2 separate regions of the Homo sapiens genome follow, and region 2 is linked to region 1. A link means that fine-mapping ties the variant in region 1 to the expression of a gene that starts in the linked region. Tissue or cell type: whole blood. Region 1 holds a variant in brackets; the other region holds the start of a gene. All regions are shown on one strand. Distances are between the middles of the regions.

Region 1 (2,751 bases):
CGGAGGCTGCTTCCCCTCCACACCACTCCCTGTTTTCAGATGCCAAGCTCTTTTTAACCTCCGAAGGCTCTTCACTGTCCCACATTAAGTGTTTTCTCTCACTGTATGCCCACTCCACCACGCACCCTGTCAGCCTGACCTCTGAAATCCAGAGGCTTCTCACCACTTCTCGCCACCTCCACGGCGCCTTGGGGCCCTGCCTCAGCGCCCTTCACCTGGAGCACAAGTGGACCCCTCACCTGGTCCCAAAAGGTCACTTGGCTGCTACCTTTGCCCCAGGGCCCCTGCCTCAGTCTGTTCTCAACACAACAGCCAGAGATCCTTCTAGAATGTGTCAGACCACATCACCCTGCTTATGACTACTGATGGCTGCCCATCTCACAGACTGGAATCTAGTGTTTACTGGGATCGCAGGCCCTTCCTGGTCTGCCCCATCCCTCGTCTCAGCTACTCCCTCCTAGGTCTCGGCCCTGCAGAAGCACTGGCCCCCTCTACCTTAGGGCCTTTGTACTGGCTGCTCTCTGTTCTCTTTTCCCAAGTATCCCTCTCCTTGTAGGGCACCCTCTTTTCTTTTTAAAAAATTATTATGATTATTATTATTTGTAGAGACGGGGGTATCACATTGTTGCCCAGGCTGGTCTTGAACTCCTGGCTTCAAGTGATCCTCCTGCCTCAGTCTCCCAAAGTGCTGGGATTACAGGAGTGAGGTACCACACCTGGCCACCTTCTCACAGGTTCTGCTCAAGTGTCTCTTTACCCAAGAGGTCTTCATGTAAAATGCCCCAACCCCACAAACACCAGCTCTGATTTGATTTACAAATCTACCCTTCTTTGATTTCCTCCTTCCCAGTTGCTGAGACAGGCATGTCTCCCCCTGTGATGAGCACCTAGTGTTCCTGAGGACACTCCTTCAAATGCTAAAACCACGCCCTGCCAAGAGCCAGTACGTGACAACTGGGCAGTCTCCACCTCATCCCTGGGTGTGATTCTTGCGAAACTTTTTGGTTCTGGGACCACTCAGAAAACTCTCCAGGGAAACGATCACAAAAGCTGACTCTGGGCAGGCAGAACACTGCTCACTCCCAGCCAGAAACCCACGGGCTGATGTTTCTTTTCACAAACATCCCCAGCCTACAAGACTGGCCAGGGGCTCCACCTCCATCTGACTGCCCAGGGCCGCACTTGGCAAAACACGGAGGCAGAGAAACTCAGGCTAGAGTTCATGGCTGACACCTCACAACCTTTGCCCTTTTCCCCCACTGGACCTCTTGCTGGAAAGTGCTGGGTGACCTTGGGGTGGGGGTGCCAAGGAGAGGAGGGAGGAGCCAGCATCTACAGACCACCCTTCCCTCACAGCACACATCTCCAGATTACTGTCCACCGGGGTGGGATTCAAATTTGGACAGTCTAAGTAACTCATGCAGGCTGCACTA[C/G]TAGAAGTTTCAAAGCAAGGCTCGGACTCCAAAGGGAAGCTCTTTTAACAACCCTGTCCTGCCTCATTCATTCATTCAAGGACTATTTGTGGAATTGTGTGCACCAGGCACTTTGGAGGCCCTGGGATCCAGCGGGGAATACATTTATCTCACTTGCGGAGTTTGCTTGTGTGTAAGTCCGGGGACAATGAGCATGAACACTTGTTCACGTGAACGAATGACTGTATAGTAAGTAGTTTTCTAGCCACTAGAAAGTGCTAGATGTGCATGGGAGGAACACATAGCTTTGTAGGGGGTTGGAGGGAGTGATTATGGGGTGGGAGTGGTATTCAGATGGTGGGGGAAAGGTGCAGGGAAGTCCTCTTGGTTAAAGTAACATTTTGGAAGAGACCTGAGGGAAGTGAAGGAGGGAGCGATACAGACGCGTGGAGGAAGAGCATCCCTGGTGGAGGGAACAGTTGGTGCAAAGGCCCTGGGGTGGGAATGAGCTTCCCCAGCACGGAGACCAGTGTGGAAGAGCAAGCGGGAGACACCAGCCACAGCAGGACTTTGAATTCTTTTCTGAGATGGGGTAGATTGGGAGGTTGTAAGGAGAAAAAAGACAGCCTCTGACATGAAGCTGGAAGGGGCTGGGCTGGGATGCTTAGGTGATGGGAGAAGAGGGATTCTGGACGGTTGCAGAGCTGGGTGCTGGAGAAAGTGAGCTTCCCAGAGGACACCAGAGCGTTTGGCCTGAGAAAATGGAAGAATGAGGTTGCCGTTCCCTGAGCCCCAGCGCCTCCCTCTCCAGGAGGGTTGGCTCTGGCAAGCCCCAGGTGTGCAGGAAGAGAATCCCAGGTCCCTTCAGCTTCCAGAACAATTGGTTTACGCAGAGGGAGGGGAGGGGAGGCGGTGAGCGAGAAAGCAGTTCCAGGTGGCAAAGGCAGCTCCGGGGGAAGAGGCTGCCCCAGCGCCTGGGACCCACCTAGCGCAGCGGGGGTGAGCCCAGTTTCCAATAACAAAGTGCCCGGGCCGTCCCAACCCTGGCCCTGACAGCTAACGAGCTGCAGCCGGCTCGGTGCGCGGCCGGGAGGCCAGCCTGGCTCACATGATGGCGTGAGGGGGTGGCAGGAGGAGCCGCCAAGCCTCAGCGGGTCGGGCAGGAGGCTCCAGGAAGTCTTTCTGAAAGTGGGCCCAGGGGCGGGCGCGGGGCGGGGCCGCGGGGGTCCCGGGAGGGGCTGGGCGGGGCTGCAGTGCCGGGTGGGGATCGGGCTGGGATCCCAAGCGGCGGATGGGAAAGGGGTGGAAAGGGGATGGGAAGGGGCGGGAGATAGATGGG
Region 2 (2,751 bases), 24 kb after region 1:
GGGGGAGGGGGGCACAACACCTTCCTTTGGGAGGCAGGAATGTGGGAAATGGTGGGTCTCTTAGGTTTCAGGGTGGGGGTGAATAGCCAGTCAGCCAGCCACCGATCCCAAAGGAGCGGATCAACTCTGAACCTGCCAAAAAAGACAGTCCGGTGCCCGGGAAATTTACAAGGTGAAACCGACTAGCTCAGCACTCGTGGGTGGCGCGGAGAAGTGGGGTGGCCGGCGACTCTCAGCTCCCGGGCGCGGGATCCCGCAGCGGCAGCAGGTGGGCTTACCCCCGCCCCTGCGGCCCCCCACTCCCTGGAGTCGCAGTGCCTGGTACCTTTCTGGCGCCGCGCTCCGCGAACTCGCGGGCGAGCTGACGCCCGATGCCTCTCCCGCCGCCGGTGATGAGGACGTTCTCCCGCGACAGGTCCCGCAGCTTGGCGGGCAGCACCAGTCCGACGGCTGCTTTCACCACCAGATAGATCATCTGTAGAGGGAACATCACCAGCGCGCCCAGCCGTTTCCACACCATCCTCCGCGCCGCGGAGCCGGGCAGGGGGCGAAACTCCCCGGGCCGAGCAATACAGGAATTAAAAAACACCCCGAACAATAAATAGTAAACCGAATAAGGAGGAGAGAGGCGTCCCACCTGGCCACTCTTGAAATCACCTCTTCCCAAATGCAAAGCACCGGGTGAGAAAAAGAAAAAAAAAAAAAAAAAAAAGATAAATTCTCCTCTGGGGGAGAAAAAGCGTCTCCTAAGGTTGGGACGGTAAAAGAGGTGGAGGGGGAAGCCGGAGGTGGAAAGTTCTAACAAGAAGTTTCTTGCCCCAGCAGCCGTTTCGGCTGGGGAATTCTCAGGTAATGTTTACAGACTGACAGAGGAGTTTAGGGAGGGGAAGAAAAAAAAAAAAAGGCACCAACCACACGCGCGCACCCTGCCTCGGTCCCGCGGTTTCAAAGTGCAAGATTAAAAAAAAAAAAAAAAAAAAAAAAAAAGCTGATTCCAAATTGTAGCGCCCCCACCCCCACCCCGTCTCCAGAAAAAAAAAAAAAAAAAAAGTGGGGGGAAAAAGTGCTTGGAGCTCCCAATTTCAGCCCGCGAAAGTCTCCCGACTCATTGCTATTCTTGGGCTCAGGAAATTGCTTAAACGCGATCTGATTGCCAGCAACGTGCAGGAGAAGTGGGGGGTCCGGGTGTCAGTTTCTTTACGTGCAGCGCTCGCCCTCGCGCGCGCTCGCTCGCTCCGGCTCCCTCCCTCCCTCTCTGTTCCAGCAGAGGCTGGGAGTTGCCGCTCGATCCAGCTCCCCTTCTCTCCCTTTTTAGCATTTATTGCCTTCTTTTTGTCCTTTCCAACTTGGAGAGGGTCCGGGTGTGGAGCGCGCGTGGATCGGACGCCTTGGTCTGCGCGGCCCTATTCATTCGCTCCCCGGGCAGCCGCGTCGCGGAGAGGGCGGCCCCTTTTTCCCCCATTTTTTCAATACCCCATTAAGTCTGATTGACAGTTAAAGTTGTTGGGAGGCTTCACTACCGTTCCTCTGAGTGGCTGCTGCGGCCTCCCCTCCCCCTGCGCCGTCGCGGGGAGCGCGCATAAGGCGCGCACTCGGGCTCGCCGGGACTCGCGCTCTCCCGGGACTGGCTCCCCTCTCTGCAAGCCGGGACTTGCCGCCGGTGTCCCTGAGGGCTCGCAGCTGTAACTCGAACACGCTGGAACCGACTCCGGCGAGCCGGCTGCCTTCTCGAGACGTTCCTCCTTGCCCGGGCCGCCCGCGGGCCAGGTGATCACCCCGAGTGTGGAGCAGGCCCGGGGGAGCTTGCGTATGCCTTGATCCAACCAGGTCACCCAGGGTTTTATTTCAGGTCATTTGGTCATCCTCGGCCTCCAGGTAGGATCAGGAAGCCACTCCTCACCTTTGCCCGGACCTCTTCTGTGTTCACGTAGAGTGGACTTTTAAAAGCCTGACCCAAGTGCCTCACGATGCTTAGGGGGAAGCCGCTGGGGAGCAGGACTTTGCTTTGAGGGGAGGGAGTAGTCAAGGTAAAGGAACCTCTGCTCCGAGTGCCAATAAAATCCCCACAAGATTAGCTGGGAGCATATTTATTGCTCATCTGAGCTAGAATTACCTTGACTGACACCAATTTCCTTAATAACAAAAGCCTGTAAACAAAACGTCCTATTCGTGCGCCCCTGTGCTGTGCAGCCAGCGTCTCCTGTCCTTGGGTCTCCCTGGACTGCCCTGGCGGGGCACCCACCTTCTAACCTCCTGCCCTTCCCGACCGGAATGTCTCCCCTGCTGGAGGGTGGGACCGAGCTATTTAGAGTTGTCTGTTGCAGGAAGTCTGGGAGGTGAGTCACTAAAAAGCAGCCCCAGTTCAAAGTGCTGATGGGACTTGCCTCCCGCCCCCCTGCACGTTCCCGGGGCCGGAGGAGCGAGAGCGAAGCAGGGAGCTGCCCTGTAATCTGGGGCAGCCGTTTCCAGCCCGCGACTTGTTCAGACGGCGATTCCTGGGCCTCACCCCCAGAGATTCTGATTCAGCAGGGCTGGGTGCGCTGGGATCGGTACTTTCAATGCTCCGCCTGGTGAGAAAGTCACTTCGAAAAACGCTGATCTGCGGGGAGGGGAGGCTGGGATTACCTCGTCACCTGCAAAGACCTAGTTCTGGGGAGAGGTTCTGCAGGGGAGGATCTTCCTTCTGGGTGAAAAGCCACTGGAAGAGCAAAAGGCAGGAGAGGCTTAGGATGAGCAACTGTCCTGCACTGA

Evidence for each region. PIP is the estimated chance that this variant, and not a neighbour inherited with it, causes the effect.
Region 2: DHRS3 starts here. The variant in region 1 is fine-mapped to the expression of DHRS3 in whole blood (TOPMed, PIP 0.94).

What each region holds. Positions count from the first base shown.
Region 1 is chr1:12,592,782-12,595,532 of GRCh38, forward strand. All of the region lies in intron 1 of DHRS3 (dehydrogenase/reductase 3), which reads right to left. Among named protein-coding and RNA genes, the nearest start is that of MIR6730, 15 kb to the left of the region's middle. RefSeq lists an enhancer at 1-500. The variant C/G (reference allele first, on the strand shown) is at 1,434.
Region 2 is chr1:12,616,829-12,619,579 of GRCh38, forward strand. DHRS3 (dehydrogenase/reductase 3) reads right to left here and starts at 1,382. Exons shown (of 6, transcript NM_004753.7): 1 at 326-1,382. The coding sequence starts at 520. RefSeq lists enhancers at 1,007-1,638, 1,639-2,270, 2,271-2,751.